Linked DNA regions of Homo sapiens: all the other regions are linked to region 3. Evidence: fine-mapped expression QTL. A gene starts in region 3. Each other region holds a variant in brackets. All regions are shown on one strand. Distances are from middle to middle.

Evidence for each region. PIP is the estimated chance that this variant, and not a neighbour inherited with it, causes the effect.
Region 1: its variant is fine-mapped to the expression of SKI in whole blood (TOPMed, PIP above 0.99).
Region 2: its variant is fine-mapped to the expression of SKI in whole blood (INTERVAL, PIP 0.99).

Annotation. Positions count from the first base shown.
Region 1 is chr1:2,310,825-2,320,682 of GRCh38, forward strand. It overlaps LOC124903824 (a long non-coding RNA gene), which reads left to right and starts at 4,171. Exons shown (of 4, transcript XR_007065362.1): 1 at 4,171-4,204; 2 at 5,122-5,174; 3 at 5,568-6,187; 4 at 8,166-8,444. RefSeq lists enhancers at 2,350-3,003, 4,484-5,237 and silencers at 3,803-3,922, 4,013-4,172, 4,323-4,612. The variant G/C (reference allele first, on the strand shown) is at 4,024.
Region 2 is chr1:2,294,537-2,304,380 of GRCh38, forward strand. SKI (SKI proto-oncogene) reads left to right here. Exons shown (of 7, transcript NM_003036.4): 2 at 8,442-8,567; 3 at 8,749-8,864; 4 at 9,304-9,566; 5 at 9,757-9,844. Among named protein-coding and RNA genes, the nearest start is that of SKI, 71 kb to the left of the region's middle. RefSeq lists enhancers at 3,360-3,871, 3,872-4,383, 6,623-6,682. The variant G/T (reference allele first, on the strand shown) is at 6,551.
Region 3 is chr1:2,224,064-2,233,921 of GRCh38, forward strand. It overlaps SKI (SKI proto-oncogene), which reads left to right and starts at 4,256. Exons shown (of 7, transcript NM_003036.4): 1 at 4,256-5,672. The coding sequence starts at 4,704. RefSeq lists enhancers at 322-822, 2,177-2,997, 6,827-7,488, 7,135-7,184 and a silencer at 3,317-4,086.

The DNA.
Region 1 (9,858 bases), 87 kb after region 3:
AGACCCCTGTTCTGGGGATTGGAGGTGCCATGCCGCATGCCAATTTCATGGAGGCACAGCCCCGGGTGGGCTCCCTGGGGTGCCAGGCCACCACCTCTCTAGGCTTCCTTAGGCCATCACATCCAGCATCTCCAGCCCATCCAGGCCCTCATAGGTCATCTGGGTTGTGGTCCGAGAAAGGCATGGGCTGGTAGGGGCTCCAGCCGGCCCCTCCCCCCAGCCTCCCGGCACAATTTCCAGGTCCCCATCTCTTCTCTCCACCCCTCGGGAAGTGCCCCCAAGCTTGGGGCTAGAGCAGACCTGGCCCTCCCCTCACTGCCACATAGGGGCTTCCTTCTTCCCTGCCCAGGGCCCCAAAGGGCTCATAGAGCCCCCACGGAGGGTACAGGGCGGCCTCTAGACCACACAGGCCTACCCCAGCAGGCCTCAAAACACCCACTCCACATGGGCCTGGCTTCTCCATCCAGGCTAGGCCCCTGGGTGTTGGGGGCAGTGGGCAGGGGCGTGGGCCGAGGGGAACATGGGCCACAGCAGGAGTGGGTGTGGACTGGTCCTGGGCACGTGCATGTTCTGGGGGGCAGAGGATGGGCGGCTCCAGAGTGCCGCTGGCAGGACCCTGAGACTGAGTCAGTTGTGAGCACAGAGGACCAGCCCGGGGTCCAGTGCAGTGGGGAGGAGTTGGGGAAGGGCTGGGCCGAGGTCCTGGGTGGGCCTCGAGGACCGTCCCTGTGGCCACATGGGCACTCTGCCTCGGAGCTGAGCACCGCAGGGCTTGATGACGGCCCTCCCGACCCTCCCGGAGACTCAAAGGCACTGCCTCCAGCAGCCACGTGGGGGCAGGGAGGGGCGGTGCTCTGGGCTCAGTTGTTCCCCAAGCTGCCCCAGGCTTCTCTTTGGTGTTTACCTTTGGGTATAAACTTAGAGCTTTAAAGGGCTCTGGCCACCTGCTGAGCTAGGCCAGCCGTCACCCAGGGTCAGAACCCTCTTCCCAAAGCTGTTCCGAAGGGATCCAGGGGTCTCCTGAGTGCTGGGGGAGAGGAGGCCTGGGTGGGAGAAGCTCCCTGCCTCCATGCCAGGGGAGGGCAGAGGTGGGGGGAGAGAGATGGCCCTCCCCACCCTACCTCTGCATCCTCAGGCTCAGGACTCCCAGCATTCACACCTGCCTGGGCCTCTGCAGGGACCACGGGTTAGCCCTCCAGCCTCAGCTCCCTGGAAGGGCAGCTCCCAGTACCCCTGTTCCTGGCAGTGCCTGTTCCCAAGCCCCCAAGAGCTGGGGTCTGGGGAAGATGAGCTCAGGGAAGGGGATGGGGGCTCCCCCACCTCCCTAGTTTCTGCCCCACCCTGTGCCCCACCCATTTCTGCCTCAGTCACCAACAGCTGTCCTTAGGTCTCAGCTGTGCTGGTCTCCCCCTCCTCCTGGAGCCACAGTCCTGCCAGCCTTCACCCACCAGCCTGTGGTCAAGGGGGCCGACAACGGCTGAGCAGCCTGACCTTGTCTGGGGAGGCAGCGGCCAGCACGTCCTAGGTGGGGAGTGGAGACTGCTGACCAGTTACTGCAGCCACTGGTTCAGCCCCGCGTGTCCGGCCCCAGCCCTAAGCCTAAGCAGGGACCCGGCTCCTCCCTCACTTCACCCCCAACCCGCCCTCCTGCCCCAGCGCAGTGCTCCAAGGGCATGGCCAGGGGCCCCCAAGCTGGACACCCCCTCATGGCTGCATGAGGGGCTCTACCCATTGCCCCAGCCCACAGGCCCAGACCCCGACCCCATCCTGGCCCAGGCCTGGCCACCCCCACGTCCCAGCACCTGCTTTGACTCCCCCACTTCCTTCTGGCCAGGAAGAGGCAGCCCCCACCCACTCTGTTCTCGTAGCCTCTGCACAGCTGCTGGTCCTGCTCCAGGCGACCCGGCCTCTGACCCCACGGAGCCTCCGCTGGAAGGAGGTGCGGAGCCCACAGGGACACCCCCAGGCCAGGGCCGCCTGCCCTCCAGAAATGATGGGGTCGTGACCCTGATGTGTTGGCCCCGGGGGGGTCCCGACCCTCCCCACAGAAACTGCCCTGTCTACTCCACCCACAGCGGACCCTGGGGAGGGGGTGAGGACAGAACATTTGGGGACTGGATGCCCGCCCAGCCCTGCCACCCCCCGGTCTCAGTGACGCACATGGCCATCTGTGCCTGGCCTGTGCCAGGTGGGTGGGGGCCTCAATGGCTGGGGCACCCAGCCCTGGAGCAGGTGGCCCCGCTGCGGGTGAGGACCGGCAGGGGCAGCCTGGCCAGCCTGGCTTGTCTTTGCAGTGTCCTGTGCTGGGCCAGGTGTCCAGCCGGGCTGGGAACGGACCTTTCTCTCCCATGGCCGGGCCTGGCAGCTCTTACTGGCAAGAAGTGCAGCCCAGGCTCGGCCTCCATGGCTCCTCCTGCAAAGGAGGCCTGTTCCAGAAACTTCCAGGGACAGGGAACCGTGGGGAGGTGGGGAGGTAGGGGCTGGAGGCAGGGGCTCCCTGGGTCAGCCCAGGCAGCAGTGTCTCCCAGTCTCCTGCCCCTCCCCGCAGCTGTCCCAAGGACACTCTTAGGTATAGGGGTGCCAAGTGCCCAGGCCCCGTGGAGATACAACTGGCTGGCTTGGAAGGGTGGGCTCCTGGCTGCCCAGCTCAGCCCAGAAACCAGGATTGGGTGCCATCCAGATCTAGAACGAGAGACCAGGGGTGTGGAGGGTCGAGGGCCGTCTAGAGGCCTTGGTGGGGGCCGGGCAGGCCACCAGCCCCGAACCCTGGAGGGTCCCGTGTACCCTGGCCAGTGCCAGCTGCTGCCCCCCTGGCCTGGCCCTGCCAGATTCTCCCTGACAGCCCTGTCCCCCTCTCTGCTGTCGGAACCTTCTGGCCCTTCCTGCAAGGTGGGCCTGGCCAGGCTGGGGTCTTGGTGGAGGGCAAGCAGGAACCAGGGACAGACGATGGAGCTCTGCGTGTCCTCCCTCATGGAGATGCCCCCAGCTGGGTGAAATGACCCTGGTCGGTGCTATGCCCAGGTTAGGCCAGGCTACCAGTTGCAGATGGACACCGCCCTGCGCCCTGCTGTGCCCACCCTGGGGCAGGAGCTGGGCAAGGTACTGTGTGCCCTGTGGTCCAGCCCCACTCTGCCCTGCCCCTGGTGGGGCCTGCACCCGAGGGACGTGATGCCCATGCCCCAGCTTCCTGTTTCTAAGGAAAAACAGTCCTAGGAAAAAGGCTGTAGCGTCGGAGGAGCTGCCCTCGCCAGGGCCTGGGGGGATTGTGGGTGGGGAGGCTGTCCCATTCTGTGATCCCAGGGATGCCAGGAGGGCCGTGGCTGGTGTGGCCGGCACTGGGTCAGGTTTAGGCCGGGGTCTCTCGGGTCTCGGTGTTGGCCCCTCCGTGTTTAGAATCCTCCCAGGCCAAACCAAGGCGGCCTCCAGGGTCACTCCTGCACAGGACAGTGGCCGGAACTCCGAAATGACCACCGACCTGCGCTGGCCGCTGAGGGTCCGACAGACCAAGGCTCTGGGCCCCCTACCCCATCCTGCGCCCCGTGCGCGAAGTCTGCGGGGTCACTGCTGCGCAGGACAGAAAACCCGCAGTGGGGCCCCGGCCTGTCCCCGGCCCTGGCGCTGTCCTGGCATCCGGGGAAATCCTGTTTCTGGCTCCAGGCCAGGGCCTGCCCCTCACCCTGGAGAGGCCCCGTCGGAGGCCGGCCTCGCGGGGGAAGGGCGGTGGCGGAGGAACTACCCAGGAATTCCAGCGCCGGCTCCGAAACCTTCCCAATCCCGCTCCTTCGCCCGGGCCGGAAGCCGCGCTGGGGGGGTGGGGAGGGGTGCACGTCCCGGGCCCCGCGCCGCGTCCTCAGGGCCGGGGCGGCCTCCCCGACGCCCGTTCCGTTCCCAGTCCGGGGGCACTGGGGGCCCCGAGTCAGGCGGAGCGCGCCGGGCCCCACTTCCCCACGCGGAGGGGCAGCCCCGCAGCCTCAGGCTCCCCCCCGCAGCCTCAGTTTCCCCCCCGCCCCCGCCGCCTCTTCC[G/C]CTACCCCACCCTCCCTGCCGTCCGGGGCGGCGCCCCCCAGATTCGCGGCCAGCGCTGGATTCCGGCGGGGTGGGGCGGGGGCTTCCGGCCCGGGGGCGGCTGGTCCGAGCAGCAGGCCCGGGCTGGGGGGCGGGACGGGAGGCCCTGGGAGCTTCCTGCAGCGTGGGGGCGGCTCCCGAGGTGGGAATTCCGCCCCCGAACCGGCGGGCTACGTGCGGGGGTCTCAGAGGCTGCGGCTCCTCCCGTCGGTGGGCGCGGCCGCCCCCAGAGGCCGCTGCGGGAAGCAGGGCGGCGGCAGGAAGCGCCCCCCCCGTTCCCCCTTCCCCCCCGTACCCCTCTTCCCCCGCTCGTCCCCCCTTCCCCACCCCAGGCCCCGCGGAGGCGGCGCGCGTTTCACGGGTTTCGCCGCCCGCGGCACGGTGGGGGCGGGGGCGGGGGCGGGGGCGGCGGTGCGACCCCCAGCGGTGGAAGCGGGAACTGCAGCTCGGCCGAGCTCGGGGTTGGGGGGTCCCTGCCAACCCTGCCCTCCCGGAAGGTCCCAGCCTGGCGGGTTCGGGTGCTTTTCTCTCTGGGGCGCGGCCTCCCTGTTCTGCTCAGTTGGGGGTCCGTTCCCGGGAAGAACCACCACACCCCCCATCCCGGCCCGCAGGCCCCAGCCGCCAAGTCGTTGCTGGGGAGGTGGGCGCAGGCCGCCCTCTCTCCGTGAGCCCACTCGCCACAACCCGCAGGGACCTGGGGGACTCGGTGGATCCAACCACAGGAGACCATGAGACACAGGCGGTCTCGCCGAGGCCTGCCGCTTAGAGCTGTCTCTCCTCCTCACGGGCCCCCTGGCTCCCTGCAGGCCTGGCCTCCTATCTCCCTCAGGCCATCAGCCCAGGGACCCCCAGCCCAGGCACCCCACCCATGCTCTGAGCTGTGGGCCTGAAACCCGCCCTCCTAGCAGGGAGCCTGGCTGCGCCCCAGGCCGCTTCTGCTTGGAGCTCCGTGGAAGGAAATGCCCTCAGGTTCCCAGGCACTGAGCCTCCCCTCCCGCTAACCCCATCAGGGGTATAGCAGCCCCGTGGTGCTCAGCCTGCCTCTCTCTGCCTGGGCAGGACCGTGGAGCCCATGCGTGTCCTCTCTCCTGTCCCCAGATGGAAGCCGGCAGGTGGGGCCCTAGCAGGGGACATGCTCGACGTGTGGGTGGATGAGGACCCAGTGGGGTCAGGTCTGGGGCAGCGGGACAGGGTCTCCAGGACGGGGCCTGGCTGCAGATAGGCCGGAGAACGGCTGCTGGTTCCCTGAGGCCACTGGGGAGCCAAGATGCAGTCCCCGAGGGGTTTCCAGGGAGCAGCCACTGGGCTGGGCAGCTGGGCGCAGGGGCAGAGAGAGCTGGGGCTGAGTCCTGGCCTGCCCCCTGGGGACTCCTGGGCTGTAAGGCAGGGGTGGGCAGGGCCTGGACCCTTGTTGGGGGGCCCTCCCTGGCTGTGGTCCACCTCAGGAGCCAAGGAGGCTGGGGGGCTGGTGTGGGCAGCTACCTCTGTTCCCCACGGGTCCTCAGGAAGGCGGCGCCACAGACTGAGGAGGCCCTGCTGGCCCTGGAGCTGTGTTCGGAGCCCCCACAGCCTGGCTCCTGGCTCTGGTTGCCGTGGGCGGGAGGTGGAAGTACAAGGAGAAGGAGTGTCCAGCATTTTCACGAGTGCCACCGCCAGAGGTCAAGCTGAGGACAAGAGGGCAGCCAGGCACCACCCTGGCCCCAGGCAGACTCCCCAGGGCTCGCTGAAGGGCCGGCAGCCCTGGGCCTGGCAGCTCCCCTTGCAAGCCCCAGCTGGGGGCTCTGTCATCCGGGAGGCCCTGGGCCTGACCTTCGCCGGCTGCCCCTGGGCCTGGAGGCAGGACACGAAGGGGCTGATGGGTCTGTGGTCAGCCCCGAGCGCACTTTGCTGAGCTGTGGTCTTGCTGAGCCAGCCCACAGGCCCAGCGACTCCTGGCTTACTCAGCCCAGGCCTGAGGCTCCCAGGGAAGGCCAGGCCAGGCTGTGCAGGAACCTGCCTATGGGGCTGGGCACCTGGCCCTCCAGGAAGGCCTGCCTGCGAGGAGCTGCTCTGCACAGGGGTCTCGACCCTCCGCTAGGCACCAGGAGCGAAGAGGGAGAGGCTTTGGGAAGGAGACACAGGTCAGGTGGGTCCTGTCTGGTTCCCGGCTGTGGCCTGGCTACGCTGTCCTCTGCTAATGCCAAAGGGGCCTGGGCATGGTCTGGAGGGTGTCCTGGCTGAGGCCCTGCTGAAGGGGTGAGGCAGGCATCCCCCCCCATCCCCACCCCGTCTCTCTACCTCTCTGTGTGTCTCTCTCTGACTCTCTCTGTGTCTGCCTCTCTCTGTGTATCTCTGTCTTTCTCTGGCTCACAGACTCCATCTTCCATGGCAGCAACTGGCTTGATGCTCTCTTTCGGTGTCATCTTCGCTTGGTAACCATGGGTGGGAGGAAAGGAGGAATGGCCACTGCTCCCTTGTTTGGAGGTCAAAGGAACAGGAGGGGCACAGGGAGGTAGGAGGGGCACAGGGAGGTGGGCGGAGCTGGGACCTGGAGCTCTCCCCAGGACTCTTCCTGGGGCAGGAGAAGGGGCTGGCTGGGGTTGGGGGCTCCACCTCCAACACACTGTGTTTGTGAGCTTGCCAGAGAGCCGCCACCTGGTCCCTGGCCTCAGGTTCCCAGGGGTGGCACCAGTAGGCCGTGGCCTGCAGGCCAGAGGCAGACACAGCCCCTACCATGCCCACCAGGTCCGGAGGAGCCCAGCAGAGCCCCTGCCCAGCCTGGGAGGAGGCCTCAGCCCAGCTCATGTCCCGCTGTGTTGGCAGTCAGACGGTCACGTGGCATGGCCACCCTGGCCCCAAAGCCGGTGTGTTTCCACCTCCAGCACCAAGAGCTGCCCGCCCTCCCCCTGACACGCAGAGGAGGCCCGGGAAGCCTGGGAGACCATGGCTGCCGTGGGCGGGGCTGGTGGCCGTCACCACTTGCTCCAGGCCTTTGGGACCACATCTGTCCCCGGCCCGCGCCCTCAGCGCAGGGACGCTGCTCGGCGGCAGCAAGTCTGTCCACTCACTGAGGCCCCAGTGCCGGGTGTGAGGCTGCTGCCCGGGAATCAGCGCCCAGTCCCGGACGCAGGCCCAGTGAGCAGGGGCAGGCGAGCCGAGGTCAGCCCACGGGCCCCCATCCTTCCACTTGACCCCGTCCCGGGCTCGGCACTCAGGGACTGGTTCTGGCCTGCGTGGGGCAGGCGATGGGAAAGGATCTTTCACAGGGGGACGGGCACACCCCGGAGTGGGGGCGTGTGCTGGTGGGAGACGCGTGTCGGGGGCTCTGCGTCCTCCTTCCAGGATCTTCCTCCCCACCCCGAGAGAGCAAGGGGTCCTGGGACTCTGCCCAGGAGGTCAGCTGGACCAGACAGACGGGCCAGTCTCTGTGGCCTCCCCAGGGCCATGGGGACTGGCAGACCCAGAAGCCAGGGTGAAGGGACGCGGGAGGCCTTGTGTTCTGTGGCGGGTCCCGAGGACTCTGTCCCCACGGTGGGCTGCCTGAACAGAGTCTGAGGGGAGGGTCACTGTCCCTGGGTGCAGCCTGGCCTGCGGCCGCCTCGCCACTCCTGGTCTCTGGATGCTGCGCCCCGCAGTCCCTCCCTCTCCCGCCCGGCTCCTCACCCCACGTCCAGCCCTCCAGAGTCGTGTCTGTGGCCACAAGGCTGTCTCCACAGAGCCTCTCTCCCGCAGTGGTTTTTTTTTTTTTAAAGAATTCAAATTTCCTGCGTATTTTAACTTTGGGATGTGGTGTGAGGAGTAGGGTGAGTGGGGCCGGGGCGGGAGTCCAGGCGAGGCCCAGGCGCTGCGTCTCTCCAAGGCTGGCTGCCCGTTAGCTCCCAGGCATGCTGGCCAGAGAGGCGCCAGCAGCCCTAGGAAGCCACGGCTCTCTGCTCCCTCCCAGGGTCCCCAGGGCCTGTCCTGGTGGGTGGCGCATGGGGAGAGGAGCATGGCCAGGTAGCCACCTGGCCACCTTCTTGGGCCCTCAGTGGCCCTGGCAGCAAGCACAGGGGACACCGATGCCTGCCCGGGGTTTTGCTGTGATAACCAAGGAAGCTGACGGCCCCGGGCTTCTGTGTTTGCAGAGAGCTTACAGAAAAGTCAGCCTCGATGGACGGCAAGATGCACCTGTCAGCCACGAAGGAGCCCCCCGAGGTGCAGATCCCCACATCCGCCGCACCCGTGTGGAGAAAACAGCGCTGGATTTCCTGTCGTGGGTTTTGTGACTTTGAAAGCCGAGGCTGCTGATTGGGAATTAAATCCCAGAGGACGCCGCTCAACACACTGGAAACCCAGCAGCTGCTGCTGTTCCCAGCAATTTTTCTTTCTCTAAATTGAAACATCATTTTCTATTTTTCTTCTGACACAAATGTGGTTTCATCCTGAAGTGAAAAACAGCTACAGAGCAATTTGCCAAATGTAAGGGGCAGGCCCAGGTGAGCGCCGCTCACACGCAGCGATCAGGGTCAGCGTGACGCGGTGGTATCTGTCCTTCACGGGGGCTCCTCTGTGGGCCCGGCCTGGCCGATGTCTGCCTGGCCTCCTGGGAGGCTGGTGACCCAGGTCGGAGCAGGCCTGGCAGGCCAGGAGCCTCCCCTCCGACGGGCGTAGCCAACCCCAAGGGTAAGGGGCAGTGTCAGAACCGCCAGGCGCTCACGGGGCTCCCAGGGACCAGAGGCTGGAGCCATGGCTGTGATGAAGCCGCCCTGGGCTCTGGGAGCCTCGAGGATGGCCGCAGCTGGGAGACGCAGCCTTGCCACTGGCTCTGGGCTTCTAGAAGGTGTGGGAGAGTGGCTGCCTGCCTTGCTGTCTGGAATGGATGCCTGGGTGTCTGGGGAAGCTTCGGGGATGCCAGAGCCCCCCACATGCACTCGGCCTCCCAGTGGCAGAGCTCAGACCCAGGGGGCCTTGGGGACACTCTGCCCTGGCAGAGGAAGGGTCCCCTCGCTGCAGCTCCAGTGGCCTCCAGCTTGTCACCTCCAAGGATGGGGGACTCGGCACCCCGCGATCCGGCCTGGTTCCTCCCTGCAATGCCCCCCCGCCCGCCCCTCTGCCCCCGGGCAGCAGGCCGCCTTCAGTGCATCCACCACGCTGCGCCCGACCTGGCCCCAACCAGGCTTTCCCTGAGAGCTCCTCAGGGCCCCCCACCGTGGAGCATCCCAGCTTCTGGGTGGATCTTCACCCCATGTGCCCAGGGGCTGCCCCGGGTTCCTGCACTGCTGTGAACGCAGCTCCTCTGTCCACGGCCTCCCTCCGCCGAGCAGGAGCAGCTCCCTGTGCAGGTCTGGAGAGATGCCCCGGCCGCAGCTGGCCTGGGAGATGGGTGTGTTCCCAGGGAAGCGCGCCTGGACAGTGGGAGGGTGGGTCTGGCCGCAACGCAAGGAGGTCGGTGCTAGTTGTGGGAGGGCCGGGGACAGCAGCATGAGGGAAACATCAGGGGGCATGGGTCTGGTGTGGGGCTGGGGCTGGGCCCTGGACGCCCCCTCCCCAGGGCTGCAAACGGTGGTCTTCTGAGAGGGTGGGCTGCAAGGACGGGGGTGGGTCAAGGGAGAGCAAGGAGAGCAAGGGCCTGAGGAGGCTGGTTCCCTGCCCAGCGCTGGGCGGGCAGAGGGTGAGACCAGCCAAGCTGCACAGGCCCCAGGTGGGCAGGGTGAAGCCAGGGGCCAGGGCAGGTGCGGTGGGGCCAGGAGGCAGGGTCTCTGCAGTGGCCGCCTTCTGTGCTGACCGAGTGGCTGGCTGCCCATGGGCCATCTCAGTGCCCCCTCCCCAACAACCTTC
Region 2 (9,844 bases), 70 kb after region 3:
TTAGCTGTCTCGGGGAACCGGTAAGCCCAGGGCCACCTTGTCACGTCCTCCACTGAACGTGGGTCCACGTAGATGCCAGCCCCTTGGTCTTGCCCAGAAGTTGTGGGAGGTGCTGGTTGCCAGGGATGGCTATGCATGTTTGTCCCCATGGCAGGGAGGCCTCTGGGGGCCTGGCCCTCCCCCCGCTAGCTGCTTCTCACATTTTTGTCTCCCCGAGAGCCACCTGCTCTCCCAGGGCCCTCAGGCCCCCGTCTGCCAGTCTCCTGGCACCTGGGCTGGGGTCTGCGCCAGGCAACTCCCACAGCAGGGCAGGATCCACCCTCCACGTTATCATTACTGCCATCCCCTGTGCCTGGGTTGGAGGCCACGCCCACCCAGTGGGGCCCCTCTGGAAAGGAGACTTGACCTCAGGGTGGTGGCAGGGCTCTGTGGGATGCCCCTGGTGACAGGGACCAGAATGTTCCCTAAAGTGGATGTCAGGCCCCTGGCTCAGATGGAGCTTTCTGTTCTTGATGGGCTTTAGAAGGTGAAAAACTAGGCTTCCAGAGGTGAAGTTGCACTGTGGGCTTTGTGGCAGGTGAGCGCTGCCTGACCCTGAACAGCTGCTAAAGACTCAGACCTGGAGCCTTCCTGGTGTCCTGTGTGTCCACGCAGGTGTGCCAGTGTGGCAGCCCTGCGCCAGGAGCTGCCCCTGCATGTCATGGCAGCATCCATGCCAGCCGAGCGCCCCTCTGGCTCCCAGGCATCTCATCCTGTCTGGCTCTGAGGGCCGTGCTGCAGTGAAAACCATTCACCTTGACAGTTTGGCTTTCGACCAAGAATTCACTGTCATATTTTTGATTTTTAAAATTAAGACTGTATTCAGATATAATTTGCGTACCATAAAATTCTTCCTTCCACAGAATATGGTTTAATGGTTTTTCAGTATATGCAGCCATCATCATCTAAGTTGAGAACATTTTTGTCACCCCCAACAAGAAGCCCCATGCACATGGTCCGTCACTCCCCAGGCCCCAAATCCCAGCCAGCACTGATCTTGGCCATTGGCCTGTCCTGGTCATTCCATAGAAGTAGAGCCACGTGACTGTGTGTGTGTCTGGGCCACGCGTGGCTGTGTGTATGAGAGCCATGCGTGACTGTGTCCGGGTCACACGTGACTGTGTGTCCGGGCCACGTGTGGCTATGTGTCCAGGCCACGTGTGACTGTGTGTGTCCGGCCTCAGCACAGTATTTTCAAGGCTCCTTCCTTCCTTTTCATGACTGAATCATACTCCATTGTCTGCACAGACCACAATCTATCCCGTCATTTGTCTCTGGATGCTTGGGTGGCTGCACTTTGCTGCTGTGAGCACTTGTGCACAAGCTGTCGTGTGGATGTGTGTTTTCAGTAACCTGCGTGTACGCCGAGGACTGGAATTGCTGGGCGATGTAACTGTGTTAAGCTTCCGAGGACCTGCCAGACTGTTTTCCACAGCAGCTAAATAATTGTACGTTCCTCTTAGCAATGCATAGGGGTTCCTGTGTCTCCATGTCATCACCAACACTTGTCCAAACTAAAAAATTCTAGGCCAGGCGCTCATGCCTGTAGTCCCAGCAATTTGGGAGGCCAAGGTGGGCAGATTGCATGAGTTCAGGAGTTCAGGACCAGCCAGGGCAACAAAGTGAAACCTTGTCTCTAGGAAAAAAAACAAAAAAAAAAAAACAAAAAATTAGCTGGGCATGGTGGCACATGCTTGTAGTCCCAGCTACTCAGGAGGCTGAGGTAGGAGGATTGCTTGAGCCCTGGGTGGTTGAGGCTGCAGTGAGCTGAGATCGTGCCACTACACTCCAGCCTGGGTGACAGAGCAAGACTCCGTCTCAAAAACAAACAAACCCAGTTCTAGCCATCGTTGTGGGCGTGAGTTGACGTCTCCCTGCGGTGTGATTGCGTTTCCACAGTGAATGATGTCAGGCAGCTTTGCATGCGGTTACTGGATGTTAGTATCCTGTTTGGAGAAATGGCTACTCGAATTCTCTCCCATTTGGAAATTGGGTTGTGTTTTGTGTTTTCCTTGCTGACTTGCAGAGTTCTTCATGTGTTCTGAATCTGGTCCCTTACCAGCTACCGGGTTTGCACGTTTTCCCTTGCATCCTGTGGGCTGTCTTTTCCCTTTCTCGATGGTGTCCTTTGAAGCACAAAGACGTCGTGATTGTTTTCTGGGAAGCCTTGTTGTTGTGTTTTCTCTCTGTTCCTTGTGCTTTGGTGTCATGGAAGCACTTCTGCGGGGGCGGGAGTCTGGACTGAGGCCGCCACGTTCCTGCTGTGAAAACCTTCACGTGCGCTCGCAGCCTCGGCTCTACAGACGGTTCAGTCCGGGAAATGGTTTAAGGAGGCCGTGCACAGAAACAGTCTTTGCAGCCAGGGACATGAGAGCATACCGTGCTGTTCCCACAAGGCCCGTGGCCTCTGCAGGTGAGAATTGGTGGCCTCCCTTGAAAATACTGAATGGAGGTGCCAGGCACCCGCACAGGCTCTTGGTGTGGGCATAGGCCGTCTTCCACTTGAAGAATGTGGCAAGATGGTCTGAAAACCACAAAGTTTGTGTTTGGAGACACGGTCTCAGTGTGTTGCTCAGGCTGGAGTGTAGTGGTGGGATCATACCTCACTGCAGCCTCGACCTTTTGAGGTCCAGTGATCCTCCCACCTCAGCCTCCCAAGGAGCTGGCATTACAGGCATAAGCCACCACGCCGGGCCCACGGCTGAAGTTTGGGTTGTATCCTTTTAAGGAATAGCAGACGGGTTTTCAGCCACACCGAAGAGAACCTCAGCGTAGCAGAGTGTTGCTGGGCCATGTGCTTCAGGAGCAGGGCCACAGGCAGGACCTCGAGTGCCCAGCCCGCTCACCACGCTGTGGGCGGCCTCTTGGGAATGTCAGAACACCAGCACAGGCGATCTCCTCGGAACCCAGATTGTGGGCGATCCTGCCGCTCCACCTGCTGTGGCCCCAGGGTTGCACCACCATGTGGACTGTGGCTGGCAGCTTCTGGAGGCTTCTTGGTGCCTACAACATCTGCGCCACTCCACAGCGTTGCCTATTGGTGGCAGCCATCCCCTCCATAAGCCCGTGGCCCCTGTACAGAGACGAATTGGCGCTCACGGACTCACCCTGCGAGGCAGCATCTGCGTCTGCAGGACTTCCCGGCCCTTGGCCGCACATTTCCCTCCAGTTCCCATCATGGCAGCTGTGCCTGGTTGCGGATGCTGCATGCTGAGGAGAGGAGGCGTGGGCCCGCCCGGTGTGCATGGGCAGGTCTGAGACTGGCCACTCCCATGGCGCATGCATTCCCCTGGAGGGTCCCCTTGCCCCGTGGCTGCAGCCTGGCAGGAGAAGACGCTGAGGGGACGCACGGGAGGGGTTGCAGGGTGGGCTGTGCTGTGTGGCAGGCCTTGGGGTGTAGCCGCAAGCTGTGGGTCCATCCCCCCGCACCAGAGTGCAGTTTTGACACCGGGTGGTCATGGGCCGAGCATCCATGCAGGTGTGGAGACGGAAGCCTGACCCACAGAGCTTGGTGGTGGCCCCTGGACTGACCTGTGGGCTGCTCAACCGCTCTGCCACTGTGCGTTGTTCACATGTGAAGCCGGCGTCACAAAGGCCTCAATGTCTGTTTCAGCTGGATACATGCGCGCCCTCGTGGGGGCTTGAGGGCACACTGGCCGCTGGACACTGGGGTCCCGGGGTGACTGAGGCTGGTGCCCTCCTGACAGGTTGCTGGGCTGCAAGTTGAACAGAAAACTGGTTTTCTTCACTCTGCGAAGTTCCCTGTGGTTGTCCCTGGGGTTGGAGGGAGTTGTGTTGACATCATCATGGCTGCTGCTGTGCGCCTCTCCCTTGGAGCAGGTGTGGTCCCCGGCTCCTGGATTGGCTGCCCATGCTCAGGATGGTCTGGGGTGTGGCCGTGGCCTGTCCCCGGGCCGGATGGCTTTCTCAGCAGCTCCCTGAGGCAGCATGAGCAGAGGCGGGACCCTGCCCGGGTCCTGTTTCCCCCTTGTATCCTTTGGCCCTAATACGGGGTCCCGTTTACCAATGAGGGCAAAGAGACCAGTCTAAGGGGAGGCTGAAAACTCACAGGCAGGCCTGTCTGGCCTTGGGGTCTGGGTGCTGCTTCCAGGCAGACCACATCCCAGGTGAGGTGCAGACATTCAGAGACAGACGTGGCCGATCCTGGCTGCTGTATCAACGCGCCCACCAAATGGGGCCTTCTTTGATCATCAGTCAAAAGCAAGAATGTGCCTGTGGTGGGCGGGCGCGTGTGCCAGCTTCCAGGCCGTGGGCTCCTTGGTGCCCAGAGCTCACCCTGTGGTGCTTGCCCACTACTCACTCCCGCCTCCCCGGAGTCTTGCCCTGGGGGGTCCTGGTGTGGGAGCTGCCTTCTCTAGTTGGGTGGAGCCTTGCCTGCTGGTGCCTGTGAGCCCTGGGTGGGTGGATGCCGGGTGGTCGTGGAGGTTCACAGCAGGCTCTATGTGGTTGTTTTGTGTGGATTTGGGGTGTGAATTCTCTCAGCAAAGGCTGACTCAGACCCCAGTGTTCAGAAGGTTCAAGGAAGCGACCGTCAGCGCCGAGTGGCCAGCAGGGCGGGGATGCGGCGTTGAGCCCCGTCATTCAGCTTCAGTGTGGAGAAGGCCCGGAGCTGTGGGCATCAGCTCGGGGACCCGAGTGACTGTCCCTGCCTCGGGGAGGGGGGGGGCCACACGGGCAGGCGGGGCAGCAGCTTGTGCCCATGTCCTCCTCACGGACTCTGGAAGTGAGAGGCGCTGAGGCCACAGTGGGGGAAGTGGCCCAGCTGACGACCCGGGCTCTCGGTGCCCTGGGAGGAGCTGTTGTTAGGACATGTGCAGACTGGGTTCAGCCTGTCTGGAGTGGCTCAGGTGCCTGGGGACAGAGGCCAGCTGTAACCGCTGCTGCACTCGGTTCTGGATTCAGTGCCCTCCGCCTCTGCGGCGTCTCCCTCGGCAGCTGTCCAGGACTCCAGCCTCCCTGCCAGGGTAGGGGACATGGAGCGTCTCCTTGCTCTGGGGGGTTGAGGTCTTCTGTGTTTGGACCCTGTGGGATCTGGCAGGAGAAGCAGCCCCCACTCATGTTGTGCCAGGGGCCTGGGGAAGGGAGATGGCAGTTCTGTGACCTCCAGACTCCCTTTCCTTATTGCAGGGGATGGGCCAGCGTTTCGCCCTGAGCATCTGCACGTGTCAGGCAGGAAAGGGTCCCCAAGGCCTTCTCAATGGCTCTTCTCTGTTCCTGGCACCTTACAGGCCTGAAACGCAGGGCCCCCAAGGGTGGGGTGTGCATTTTTGGAGAGCGTCTTTTCTGAGACTCCCCCATGGGGAGCTGGTGGCTTGCTTGTGGCAGTGTACTGTGGCTGCCCAGTCCTCGGCAGGCATCCACTGCTGGCTCACCTGTTTGGGCCACCGCCTCTGCATAGGTCCTGTGGGCTTTGCTCAGGAACTGTTCCGTCAGAGGGCCTAGGGTGTCCACAGTCTTGGGCCCGCTATTCCTCAGCCCAGCCCTGCCCTGCCCTGGCAGGGGGGCACCTGTCCTTGGGTGCAAGCTCACACGCGTTGCCCGGGTGCCTGCTGGCCAGGTAGCTTGCCTGGTCATCCTCGGGGTGTGGGGAAGGACCCCAGGAGGGGAAGTGGCCGCGGGGCAGCGCGGTGTGTCGTCTGGCCTCCGCTGTGTAAGCTGACAGTGGCCTGAAGGGCTTTGGGATGGGGCAGCCCCTTGCAGGCCTATCCAGGCCCAGCCCCATTGCTTTGGTGTGTCAGGTCCAGAGCCGTGCTCCTGCCTCGTGGCCTGTGGGCTCCAAGGGCGGGTTTTGAAGCCCCAGGAAGGGTCACACCAGAGGCAAGCGGTCGTAGCTGCTCTTCCCAGAGTAAGACTCAGCCGTCTGTCACTGGGTGTGGTTTTGTCCCTGACCGACAGCTGACACTGGGGCCCCCAGGGGCCTTGGTAGGGCGGGTGGCATCCCAGGCCTGAAGACGGCTGTCTGCTTCCTGGGGCTTTGAGAAACCAATACTGCTCAGGTGACAGTCCCTCTGAGAGTGTCACTTCCTCCGCCCACAGGGGCGCAGACACCTTCTATTTTACACGTTTCTCTCCGTTTCTCTGATGCTGCAGAGAGCCCGCCCTGAGAGCCGGGAGTCGCCTGATGAGGGGTCGGCAGGGGTCTTAACGGAGTCATGTCTCCGAAGGCTCGTCCTGGCTCCCTGAAGACCAGGAGCGTCCCTGGCCCCAAGGATGGCCCTGAGCCCATCTGCCTCAACCCTCCAGATCTGCAGGGTCCTCGGCCACCCCCCACTGAGCGGATTGGGCTCGGGGCCCCGGGCCTACGGTCCTCCCGCCACCTCCACGGGGCGGCTGTTGGGGCCCCACCAGGCAGAGCCGTGTTCTCAGGCGTTGGCTCTCATGGAGGTGGCCTGAGGCATCTGACTCTTTCCCCTCAAGGAGTCTCTGAGTCTCCCGGAGTCAGCGCCGGCTGTTGTGGCTTTTCCCCGGGTGATAACTGAGCCGAATTTCC[G/T]CGCCCGCTTCAGTGGCTGCTTAGACAGGAAGCTCCACCCAGCCGGGCGTCCTCGGCCTTCTGTGCCTCTCGGGAGGGTCCGCATGATTCCGGAAGGGGCTCTGCTGCAGCTAGGATGGCACCCGCCCCTGCCAGGCATAGGCACAGCACCCTGCGGTCAGGGCCTCCGCCAGACGTCATCAACACTCACTTCCCCTCGAAAGCCGCCACATAGAGGGGGTATTTTCAGTGTCTTTTTTCCTGAACAGCTATTTTAGTGTCTCTGAAAAAAACCATCCACAGCCGTGAGCCTTCAGGGGCTGCCTGCCCTGCGTCCCCGGCCCTGTGCGCCCGAGCACTTATCTTTCTCCCTTGGGCCCAGGTCAGAGCCAGGCACCTGCCCCTCCCCTGGCCCCACCCTGCTTGTTCCCTGAGGGCTGCAGGGTGGGTGCACGTGCTGCAGGGGAGGCCACGGGCTTTGGCCAGATCTTCCCCCAGGGCCCTCCATCCCCATAATTGGAGCACCTTGATGGACAGCCTGCCCTGCGCCCCATCTTCCCCCTAGGGAAGCAGGGTCCCTGCTGCCTCCAGGAGGCTGGTTCCTGATGCAGCGTCTTCTCCTAGAGTCCTGGAGGTGGGAAGAGCCCCCGGCCCTGAGTGTGCTCTGTCCACCAAGGCTTCCTGGCTGAGGGCAAGGGCGGAGCCCCCACCGCCCGACTTTGCTGCCTCCTCTTGAGGTTGGCCTCGGCAGAGTGAGTGGGACCTCACCCCTGTGAAGGGCCCCTTGCCCTGTGTGGCCTGTTCTGCATTGGCCTGTGGTGTAGACCTGGTGCCAGCTGCCCTGGAGACTCTGTGCTGTCCTGTGGGGTCTTTGGCAGTAGAGGAATGGCCCATTTTACGGAGACTGCCCTGTGATTTTGCTTGGGAAGAGACCTTGGGTCTCAGTTGTGCCTTGCGGGCAGCACCGTCTCAGGGGTTTCCAGCCGCAGGGCTGTGGGAGTTCACGTTTGCCTGAGGCTGGATGTACCGGCTCAGGCCCCCAGCACACAACCCACATCACTCACTGGCTCTTGGGGGATGTGCCTCAGCACCTGACACACAACACCTGGTTCTGAGTGGGCTGGGTCCAGGCACCTTCGCTAAGCTTCCTCCACCAGCGGGACCTGGTTCTGGGTGGGCTGGGTCTGGGCACCTTCGCTAAGCTTCCTCCAGCACCGGGGCTGGCAAGGAGCGAGGCAAAGGTGTGTGTGGTGCCATCCTGTAGGAGCCAGGCTCCTTGGGGATGGTGTCCTTCATTTTGAAAATGTTTCCTTCCCATGGGGAGGGGGCAGCCAGAATGCCCACTCTTTAATGCACCTGTGCCAGTGGCCCACAGGGACACGGTGTCCCCTCCCCGCGACCACCCCTGTGCCGCAGCTGCCCTTCCCAGACGCATCCGTCGTGAGTGGCTCTCGCCGTGCTGTGGCTGGTTGAGCTGAGTGCCCAGCGCTGGGCACCCTCTGAGGACACACTCGGGTTCTAGGAAAGGGGTTTGGCAGGAGAAGGACGAGGGACTCCTGGCCAGGCTGAGCCGCTGTGGAAGGGGAGAGTGGGTCTTGGTGCTCCATCCCAAACCTGCTGCAGCCGTGGGTGAGGTCACCCGGAATGGCAGGACAAGGTCCACTCTGTTCTCTCGGAGATGACTTGTCCCTCAGCACAGCCTCCACGTGCCTGTTGCGCGTGGCCTAAGGGCCTTTATGCAAAGTGAACTTGGTCTCCTGGGGGGTGCCCTGGAATCTGCCTTCTGCGCCACTCAGGGTCGTTTGTGGCCGGAGTGCATGGGGCTCTGACTGCCATGTGCCAGCCACGGGGCTGGTGGAGGGACCCTGCCCTGGGAACCACAGGTGCCAACAAAACCTTTCATTGATCGCAGGTCTCCTCTGAGCCTCCGGCCTCCATAAGACCCAAAACAGATGACACCTCTTCCCAGTCCCCCGCGCCTTCCGAAAAGGACAAGCCGTCCAGCTGGCTGCGGACCTTGGCCGGCTCTTCCAATAAGGTGCTGTGGGGCCTGTCGGGGTCCTTGGGGTGGTGGGTACTGGGCCCTTCTCCTTGGGCAGACCCAGCGGCTGGCAGCTCCACCTGCCCGCTACTGAGGGCTGGCACCCGGCGCAGCCTCAGGGACATGAAGTGGCTTGTTTTTCTCCTGGTCACTCACACAGACAACTCTTTCTCGACAGAGCCTGGGCTGTGTTCACCCTCGCCAGCGCCTCTCTGCTTTCCGACCCTGGTCCCCCGCAGTGTCAGCGAGTGAGAAAGAGCTCTCCCCACACCTCCCGGCCCTCATCCGAGACAGGTGAGTGGGCGCCATTCACAGGTGTTTCTGATCACGGGGGAGGCTCCACGAGGGCTGTGCATGCGGACGCGCCCATGTTTCTGCAGGCTGGGTGCCCAGACCTGCCGCCTTTTGGTCAGGGCAGTCTCGGTGTTGGTTCCTTTGGCTGGCATCAGGGAGAGCACACCTAGAGCGTTCCCTGTGTTCTGGGTGGAGTCGTGGGTGGAGCCCTGTCTGCTGGGCGCAGCTTCTTGATGTGTTGGCCTGTGTCTGGCCTTCGCAAGAGACCCAGCAAGCAGAAAACGCTTACGGGTTCTTAGGGAACTGTAAGCTTGACTTGAAGATTCGGAGCTGGGAAAGTCTTTCCTGTTTAACACCTTCAGAGGGGGTGTGCGCCAGGATGTGTCTGGGTGGTGCTTGGGGACAGAGGCACCTTCCCGACACCCGCCTGCCCCTCCAGCTTCTACTCCTACAAGAGCTTTGAGACAGCCGTGGCGCCCAACGTGGCCCTCGCACCGCCGGCCCAGCAGAAGGTTGTGAGCAGCCCTCCGTGTGCCGCCGCCGTCTCCCGGGCCCCCGAGCCTCTCGCCACTTGCACCCAGCCTCGGAAGCGGAAGCTGACTGTGGACACCCCAGGAGCCCCAGAGACGCTGGCGCCCGTGGCTGCCCCAGAGGAGGACAAGGACTCGGAGGCGGAGGTGGAAGTTGAAAGCAGGGAGGAATGTACGTGTGAGTCGCTTTCTGTGCCTCCTCCCTGTGGGCTGTGGGGGTGGCACTGGCTGAGGGGGGCTGGTCGCCGGGGGTGCGTTGGTGGCCCCATGTTTCGCAGGTTCCTCCGGGAGCGGCGCGTCTCCCTGGTGTGGAGCTGCCGGGCACTTCCATGACTTTGTTTCTGTCTCTGCTTCCTCCTCAGTCACCTCCTCCTTGTCCTCGCTCTCTTCCCCGTCCTTTACCTCATCCAGCTCCGCCAAGGACCTGGGCTCCCCGGGTGCGCGTGCCCT
Region 3 (9,858 bases):
ACTTCATCTCAAACAAAAACAAAAACAAAACAAAATTATACGAAGCTGATGTTACTTGAGCAATTTTTATTTTCACATTTGAAGGTTTCTTTCCCAGTAACTGAGCATGTTTTTGCCAATGGCAGTCTATGCCTGGCTGCTACAAGGCCTTCCTTCTGCTTCCTGAGGAGGAGAGAGTGGGTGGCAGCAGGGCAGGGCAAGGCAGGGTGGAGCAGAGCTGGTCTGCGATGCATTTCCCCACCAAGGTTTCCAAGTTCCCCCAAAGCTTGGGGTACCCCTTGCTTTGCCAGTGTCTTCCTCTTTCTGGTCCTGGGGCGCCATCCAACTCATCTCCACACTGCTGGCTCCTTAAGGTGGGGGTCTCAACTCCAAGGCCAGCCTCCCAGGAGGCCCTCCCTGCCTACAGCCAGCCCCAGCCACTCCGCGCCTTTTGGGGATCTGAAAGATCTCGCTCCCGTACTAGCAGGTTTGTTGATTGACTGTTGTCTCTCACACCAGAATGGAACCACACGGGGTACAACCTGGTCTCCTTACCCTGATCCCAGTGTCTACAGTGGTAGGAGCTCATCGAACAAGGGGACAAACTCATGACTAGCTGACCAAGCCTGTCACCGTGGTAGGGGCCAGGGAGAAAGCTGGGAGGTCCCTGCCTTTGCCCGCATGCCAGGGCTTCTCTGGGCAGGCACCACGTCCATCCCACCCTACTCCGCGCTGTGGCTGTGCCTGCAGCCTTAACCCGCGGCCTGCCAGTATGGTGGCCCGCGTGGGCGACTGGCCTGGGCAGCTGCTGGGCGGGGCTGGAGGGTGGAAGGCCAGCAGGCGGGAGACACCCCCCACCCTCTTCCCTGCCAAGCTCAGGAAGAAAAGTGGACCCTGGTGGCTCCCTCTAGGCGTGGCTGCTCTGACCCTTGGTGGGGTGGGTGCCTTCCTCTGGAAGCTCTGACATATTGGGGGAAGGAAGTCTCAAGAGTCCACAAAGGTGGAGGTAGCTTCAGAGACCAACTGGAGGCCCTCACCTGTCCCCGCACCTTCACTCCATGGCACACCTATGGCTACTTCCCAGGGGTCCGCACTCTGGACAAAGTGTTGGTCCCTGGCTAGGACCCTGCAAAGCCAGAGGCACAGAAGGAAGCAGAGGCTCTGGGTGGGCACTGCCCATGCTAGGGGCCCTGCACAGAGCCCCTGGTCCACCAGAGGAGCCAGAGGAATTCTCTGCTTGATTGGAGACACTTCCCAGCAGGCCTGGCTGCAACCACCTTCTCTGAGTTACAATTTGACTGAGTTGTATGGAATTCAAATCCAGATGGAAGGAAGTGACAACGTCAAGTGCAACACTAGCTGTGTTTTGTCCAAAACGTGGGCCAACGAAACTATCTCCAGGAAAACAAATAAGTCCCTTTTCTATTTTTTTTTTTTTTTTTTTTGAGACAGAGTCTCACTCCATCGCCCAGGCTGGAGTGCAGTGGTGCAGTCTCAGCTCACTGCAATCTCCACCTGCCAGGTTCAAGCGATTCTCCTGCCTCAGCCTCCCGAGTAGCTGGGATTACAGGCATGTGCCACCATGCCCGGCTGATTTTTGTATATTTAGTAGAGAGGGGGTTTCACCATGTTGGCCAGGCTGGTCTCCAACTCCTGATCTCAAATAATCCACCCGCCTCAGCCTCTCAAAGTGGTGGGATTACAGGCGTGAGCCCCTGCGTCTGGACTGAATATCCTTTTTTTTTTTTTAGACGGAGTCTCGCTCTGTCGCCCAGGCTGGGGTGCAGTGGCGCAGTCTCGGCTCACTGCAAGCTCCGCCTCCCAGGTTCACGCCATTCTCCTGCCTCAGCCTCCTGAGTAGCTGGGACTACAGGCGCCCACCACCACGCCCAGCTAATTTTTTGCATTTTTAGTGGAGACGGGGTTTCACCGTTAGCCAGGATGGTCTCGATCTCCTGACCTCGTGATCCGCCTGCCTCGGCCTCCCAAAGTGCTGGGATTACAGGCATGAGCCACTGAGGCTGACCCTTTTTTTTTTTTTGAGACAGGGTCTGTCTCAAAAAAAGGGTGTGTCCCTATCACCCAGGATGGAGTGCAGAGGCTCAAGCACGGCTCCCCGCAGCCCCAACCTTCTGGGCTCAAGCAATCTTCCCACCTCAGCTTCTCAAGTAGCTGAGACCACAGGTGCAGGCCACCATGCCCGGCTAATTAAAAAAAAAAATTATTTTTTGTAGACAGGGTCTCACTATATCGCCCAGGCTAGTCTTGAACTCCTGGGCTCAAGCGATGCGCCTGCCTTATCTTCCCAAAGTGCTGGGATTACAGGCGTGAGCCACCTTGCCGGGTTAAATATCACTTTTAAGGAAATGATCTTCTTACCCAGCTTTCTGGTGTGTGAACACACAGAGAAAGCCTGGCCTCCAATTGTGGGGGCCAACGGAGTGAATGGGAAGAGTCGGGGGACAGTGTGGAGTGTGAGGACAAGGAGACAACCCCCAAGGCAGCGGAGAGAGGGAGTATGGAGCCGCCCTGGGGTCACCTACAGGTAGGTCCTGGCTGCCTCTCTAGACACCTGCCCTGCCGCAGGTCCGGCCAAGACCTGCACAGGGACTCCGGGCCGGCTCCCCCAGGATAGGAACTGCGCCCAGGAGTGCTGGTTTGAGGCAGGTTCCAGCCTCCACTGGGGAAGTGAGGGGCAGGAGGTCCCAGCTGAAGGTCACTCAGGTTGCAGCGGCGTGGCCCTCTCGCCTCCGCCCAGCACCCAGGCCAGCTTGGGCACCCCCGGCCCGTGGGGCATGTCCCTCCGCCTCAGGCGAGCACAGACCGAGCCCTGCCCCTCCCCAAACACACCATTGCGTCCCTGCGCCCGCAGGCCTCGCTGGAAGCTGCCTCCCCTGGAGACCACCCGGCCGACTGTCCAACTTCGGGGCCCCGGGCTTCCCGCTCCCCGCCCTGCCAAGGCTTGAGTCTCTCCCACTGCGTGGCCAGGCGTGGAGGGCCGGCCGATCCGACCCCGAAAGACGTCTCAGCGCTCCACGGCCCCGGGGCGGAGGTCAGGGGTCTCGCCGGCCCGAACGCCGGGCCCCGCGGGGCCGAAGTCCTGATAAGCCACCTGGCAGGAGTGGCTGGCAGACCGGCTGCGTCTGGGGCACCGGGCGCCGCCCCTCCCAGGCCCGAAGCCCCCGGCCCGCGCAGCAGGGACACTCCGCCAGGGGCCGGCGGGCGGGGCGGGGCCGGCGCGGCCGGGAGCCGCGGACACTCGGCCACCGAGCCACCGGCCACGGCGCAGCGGGGGCCGCCGGGCTGCGCCGCCAGGGTCACGCGACGCGGTGCCCGTCTCGGCGCAGGGTCCCTGGGCGTGGCCGCTGTCCCCCTCGTGTGTGGGACCCCAGGTCACCGTGTGGCGTCCCGGTAGTGTGTGGGACCCCAGAGGCGTCCGGGGCCTCCCCGCTGTGTGGTGTCCCACCCTGGGAGAACCCCGGGTGCGTGGCGTGGCCCCCCGGCCGCCCCCAGCTGGTTTGCGGTCGTGGCGGGGGCCTGTGGGTTTCTGGGCCCCGACGGCGGCGAGACGGGCGCCTTCCCAGCGGCGCAGGAAGCGGCCTCGGCCGGAAGGGGGGCCCCGGGCGCCACCGCCGCCTCCGCCTCCGCCCGCGCCCAGCGGCCCTCGGCGGGCGGGGCCGAGCGGGGCCGAGCGGAGTCGAGCATGGCCGAGCGTAGCCGAGTCCCGGCCGAGCGGAGCCGAGTCATGGCAGGGCGGGTCCGAGCGTGGCCGAGTCCCGGGCGAGCGGAGCCGAGCGCGGCCGAGTCCGGGCGGGGAGCGCGCGTTCCTGGAAGAGCCCGGCTGGGGAGCGGGTCACATTCTTGGCCAGCGCTAGGGCTGAGGCGGACGCACGGCAACAAACAGCGCGGGGGGCGGGGCCGGCGCGGGGCGGAGCGGGCGGCGCGGGGCGGGGCGGCGCGGCGGCGGCGTGAGCTCAGCGCCGGGCGCTCAGTCCGAGCCGGAGCGAGCCGCCGGGAGGATGTGCGCCGAGCGCCCCGAGCCCCGCGCCGCCGCCGCGCTCTGAGGGCCGCGGGCGAGAGGCGCCTCCGCCGCCCCGGAAGCCGGGCGGGCGGGCCGCGGAGCCGGCGGGCGGGCGGGCCGGGGGCCGGCGGCGGGCGCGACGCGGCCGGCCAGCGCCGCCGGGACGAGCCGGGCGGGCGCCTCGCGGTGGGAGGAGCGGGGCGGCGGCGGCGCGCCGCGCGAGGACGGCCCGGCGGGCCCCGCGCCCGCGCCCCCGCTCCTCCCGGGCCCCTCGGCCTCGGCCGCCGCGGCGATTCGCGCCTCGCGGCGCCGGCACCTGCCCGCGCGCCCCCCGCGAGCCCCGGGCCCGCGAGCGTTGGCGTTGGCGTTGGCGGCGCGCGCCGGGGCATGCCCCGCGCCTAGAGCCCGGGGGGCGCGCGGGGGACGCGCGGGGGGCCCGGGCGGCGGCGGGCGCGGCGCGGGGCGCGTGGATGTGGCGCCGGGCCCGGGCGGCGGCGGGCTCCAGCGGCGGGACCCCTTCGCCCCGCCCGCCTTCCCCTTCGCGCCCCCGGGCGAGGCCGCGGCCGTGATCGGCCGTGAGCCGGCGGCGGGGGGCGGCCGGGGTCGGGGCCGCGGGCGCCGCCGGGGCGCGCGGGGCGGCGGCGGGGGCCGGGGGGGCCCGGGCGCGCGGGAGCGGGAGCGGCCGGGGGAGCCGGAGCGCACCATGGAGGCGGCGGCAGGCGGCCGCGGCTGTTTCCAGCCGCACCCGGGGCTGCAGAAGACGCTGGAGCAGTTCCACCTGAGCTCCATGAGCTCGCTGGGCGGCCCGGCCGCTTTCTCGGCGCGCTGGGCGCAGGAGGCCTACAAGAAGGAGAGCGCCAAGGAGGCGGGCGCGGCCGCGGTGCCGGCGCCGGTGCCCGCAGCCACCGAGCCGCCGCCCGTGCTGCACCTGCCCGCCATCCAGCCGCCGCCGCCCGTGCTGCCCGGGCCCTTCTTCATGCCGTCCGACCGCTCCACCGAGCGCTGCGAGACCGTACTGGAAGGCGAGACCATCTCGTGCTTCGTGGTGGGAGGCGAGAAGCGCCTGTGTCTGCCGCAGATTCTCAACTCGGTGCTGCGCGACTTCTCGCTGCAGCAGATCAACGCGGTGTGCGACGAGCTCCACATCTACTGCTCGCGCTGCACGGCCGACCAGCTGGAGATCCTCAAAGTCATGGGCATCCTGCCCTTCTCGGCGCCCTCGTGCGGGCTCATCACCAAGACGGACGCCGAGCGCCTGTGCAACGCGCTGCTCTACGGCGGCGCCTACCCGCCGCCCTGCAAGAAGGAGCTGGCCGCCAGCCTGGCGCTGGGCCTGGAGCTCAGCGAGCGCAGCGTCCGCGTGTACCACGAGTGCTTCGGCAAGTGTAAGGGGCTGCTGGTGCCCGAGCTCTACAGCAGCCCGAGCGCCGCCTGCATCCAGTGCCTGGACTGCCGCCTCATGTACCCGCCGCACAAGTTCGTGGTGCACTCGCACAAGGCCCTGGAGAACCGGACCTGCCACTGGGGCTTCGACTCGGCCAACTGGCGGGCCTACATCCTGCTGAGCCAGGATTACACGGGCAAGGAGGAGCAGGCGCGCCTCGGCCGCTGCCTGGACGACGTGAAGGAGAAATTCGACTATGGCAACAAGTACAAGCGGCGGGTGCCCCGGGTGAGTGGCCCCAGGCCTGGGAGCTGGGGAGGATGCGCTTGGGGTGGGGGCCCCTTCTGGACTACAGGCTCTGGTCTCCGAAGGCTGGGACCTGTGCTTCTGCCGTGCCCCATGTCTCCAGTCTTCGCTTTGTTTTAGGGAAATTCAGAGTGTTCCGACTGGCAGGGCCAGAGAGTTTGGTAGGAAGGCCCTCCTGCCCGTTCCCCAGGACGAGCCTGGAGTGCGGGCTGTGGCGGTGGGGTGGGGGGCCAGGCCTGGTGTGTGGGGAAGGCCCGCAGGCCCACAGGCATTGCCCAGATAGGAAGGCACAGGCCTCATGCTCCCGAGAAAGCGGCCTGCCCCAGGTCAGGGAAGTTAGGTCCAGCTGGGCCACGGCCCGGATGCCTCAGGCCCAGGTCTTTCTTGGGGTTGGGGTGAAGGTGGCTGTCCTCGCCCCGAAGGCACCCAGCCTCGAAGACGGAGGGCTGCCTGCCTTTGGGCCCCAGGAGACAGAGCTTGGGTGAGGCGAGGCCTGGTTTTGTTACTGGCTCCCGCTCCCTGTTTGGTGCCTTGAAGTTTTGGGACACAGACACAAAATGAAGCCAGGTGTCCAGGCTTCAGTGGCAGGGGCCCGAGACTTGGCGGCTCCAGCACTGTGCTGGTTGGTCTCCCTGGGCCTGCCAGGGACCAAATCCCAGAGTCCGCCGTGTGGGGTGAGGGCCATTTGGCACCCGGCTGAGGGGCCTGGTCAGCAGGCTCCTGGGCCCGCGTGCTGGAGTTACTGGCGGCCTGCGATTTGCTTTGGACTCACCCATTTCCTTCTCTCCCTCTGAAACGCAGAGGGGTGCGCCGGAGAGGGAGGCTGCTGGCCTGGCTTTGTTGTTTGCCAGTTGGAGGATCTATGGGATCCGGCATGGGCAGCTCCCAGGCCACGAGGTGCCGAAATTACTCAGTGGGGTCCTCAGGAACTTTCCGTTGCGTACCTCCCCAAGTATTTGTAACTTTTCTTTTAAATATCCAGGCTTATTAAATTGCACACACAGAATGCTGCATTGGCTCAGCTATTCTTGGGAGGCCTAATTAATTCAGCTATTGCATCAAACTTTTTTTTTCTAAATCTGTGAATAGATGCTCCAGCCCGGTTTTCTCTGGGCGCCCCTCCAGCAGAGTGTCAGATCGTGGGGAGGAGGGGCTGTGGATGGAAGCGAGGGACTGTCGCCTCTGCTCGGAGGGGGCTGCGGAGGGTGCATGTGTGTGTGCATGTGTGTGTTTGTGTGTGCGCGCTTCTGACCCTGCCAGGCCAGGGCTCAGGTGGCAGCCGCCTGCAGACCTGTGGGCTGGGGAAGGATGCTCGTGGCAGAGCTGCAGACAGACGTAGCAGGCTGGGGCCCTTCGTGTCACACGGGGAGTTGGTTGGGGTGGGCCCGATGGCGCTCCCTGTGGGCTGGGGCCTTTCTTTTTGGGGTGGCCGCACCCTCGTCAGTGCCTGTGGCTGGAGGAAGCCACATGTCGGGGGGGATTGTGGGCTCGTGCAGGCTGCGTAGTGGGTCACCTGTGGCCAAGGCCTGAGCTGCTGGGACACGCTCACGTCACTGTCTTCAGAGCTGATGGCAGAGGATCTCGGTTGAGCAGGGTGTGTCTGCGTTTGTTTTTGTCCGACTGTGGGTCATGTGTGTGCTTGTGGTCTTTCTGTCTTCCTGGGCTTTGCTGGGGGCCCATTGGAGTGGCCAGTGGGGCCTCGTTGTCACAGCTGACACAGAGCAGGGCCCAGGCCACCCGGCTTCTCTCTCCCTGTGGTTGTGAGCGCCGGGGTCCTTGGGCCGCCATAGAGACAGGCCAGACAGGCTCTGGTCATCTCAGCGGATGCCTCCGAGCCGCCTTTCCCTTTTGAAGTCCCCAGCACTGCTCTGAAATTTCATTTACCGATTAAAAAGCAATTCCCAGGCCATACTGACGACGTGCACGGTGTGAGTGACTGCGTCCTCTAGGCCTGAGTGGCAGCCACACAGCCTGGCCCTGGCAGTGGTGTCCTCCGCCTGGCTCCCTGAATGTTCACCAGCTCCTGCGGGTTTTCCTCTCCTCATGCTCCTGGGGGTGGGGCACCCATCCTGCCCGTGTTGCCTCCTGCTCTATGTTCTTGACGTGGGATGGCGGCCAGGGACTCTGCCCTCGCTCAGTGCCTGCCCTTTAGGCTCTGTGACTGTGCACTTGGGAGTTCTGGGCTTCAGGGTCCCCTTAAGTCTCCTCAGGACAGCCGTGTGCGTGTCTCTGTGTGCACAGGAGCGACACATGAGAAGGGAGTGTGGTCTCAGGGTGGGCGTGGACCCACAGTGCCCAGACCCTACTTGTCCTAGAAGGAGTGGCCTGGGAGGCCCCGCCTCCGCCCTCACTGGCCGCCGTTGGCTCCTCCCACTCGTGTCTTGACAGCTTATTCTCGGGATATGTTTTGATTTCTTCACTTCCTTTGTAGCTTATTTTAATATTTTTGATCTGCCGAAGATGAGGGCAGAACAAAGAATGTACTGGAACTCTCTTTGCAGGGCTGCTGCTCCCAGCAGGCCTTCGGGCTCTGCGGAGCCGGAGGGGGCTGAATTGCCTTCCGGGTGTTTGTGGCCAGGCCAGGGTCGGGTCTCCTGCCTGAGTGGGCTGGGTCAGCGCCACTCTCCTACCCATGGTGGGAGGTGGGAGAGGGCGGAGATGTTCCCGGGTCCCAAACCAAGTGGGAGGCAGGGCTGCAGCTTTCTCCTTGGAAGCCTCCTGTGACAGCGGCTGTGCCTGAGCCTCTGGCCTGTCGGCAGTGCAGTGGCAGCATGAGGGGCAGACAGTCTTCCTCCAGATGCCCCCTCATGTCACGGGGTTACAGAGGAAGCCTCCGCTTCTGTCCAGTGGCTGTCGGGCCCGGCCAGCTTCCTGCTGCTGTATCTTGGAAGACCATGTGGGCTGCATGGGTGCTTGGCGAGTCTCCTCTTAGGGACCCTGGGGCTGCTATCCTTGACAGGGGACCTTGTCTCACCTCCCCACTCGGTCCCACACTGGCTTTGTGACCTTGGACGAGTTGCTTAACCTCTCTGCCTCAGTGTAAACTGGGGACTACTGTTTATTGATCTTGGACTTTATGTTTTGAGTGGTACAGGTGGGGCACAGATGGGTCATTGTGCTGCTGGGAGCACTTAGCCAAGACTGGAGCCTCTGAGCCTTCCCCACTCCCACCCCTCTTTCTTCTTTCCGGTCGGCTCGCCTCCTTCCTCGGGTTCTCTGATAGCTGTAGGACTCCATTGGACTACATTTTTTTGTCAGTATAGACAGCTGTCAGAGACGGAGACAAAATGTGGCAGTTGGAGCTGCCGCTTGGCCTGCTGCCTGGGACGCGGCCCCTTGTCCCGCAGAACGTCAGCCAAGCGCTTTCCGTGCAGGCTGATAACAGGGTGGTGCCGTGCTTCCCTTGGGCCGTGGCAGGATCCTGCTCCAAGGGGGGGTCCTGCTCCGAGGGGGCCGGGGTTTCTGTTCCAACAGGGCTGGTGGGGGGGGTCCTGTTCCCAGAGGTCCGGGATCCTGTTCTGAGGGGGCCAGGGTCCTGTTCTGGGCCGGGGGTCCTGCTCCGAGGGGGCCGGGCGTCCTGTTCCTAGGGGCGGTGGGCTGCCTGTGTGAGAGCTGTTCTTCACCTGCCACGTGCAGTCTGGGCATTCTGGTGACTGGAGAATTTGGGTTGTGTTACAGTGTTGTTGCTCTGTCCTGCAGATGCCTGAATTCCCAGGGGTCTTGCAGGTCCCCTTGCCCTTGCGCTGTGTGGGCTGGCGTGGGTCTCAGTGGGCTGTGGGTTGAGGGTCGCTTGGTTGGGAAGCTCTGCGCGCTTCCCAGTGGAGGGTCCGCGACGGGGGTTTTCTGATCCCTCATGCTGGCTTTTGACCCGTGTCACTGCAAGGCTGCCCCTGGCCCCAGGCAGCGTTTCTTCAGGCAGGTGCCCAGCCAGGTGGTCGGGCTTGAGACCTTTGAGTCTCGAGGTCTGTTCTGGGGAATGACTGAGCTTGTGGAGGCCAGGAAGGGGTTGCTGGGCTTGGAGAGCCTCTGGGGAGGAGTTGTGTTTTGCTCTTTGCTGTTTTAAGCTGAAATGATCACAGGAAGGGACAGCATCAAGAGTTTCTTTCTGGGACACCCCTCACTCAGCTCAGCGGCCGTGTGTGGGTTTGGGGCTGTGCTCTCCCAGACA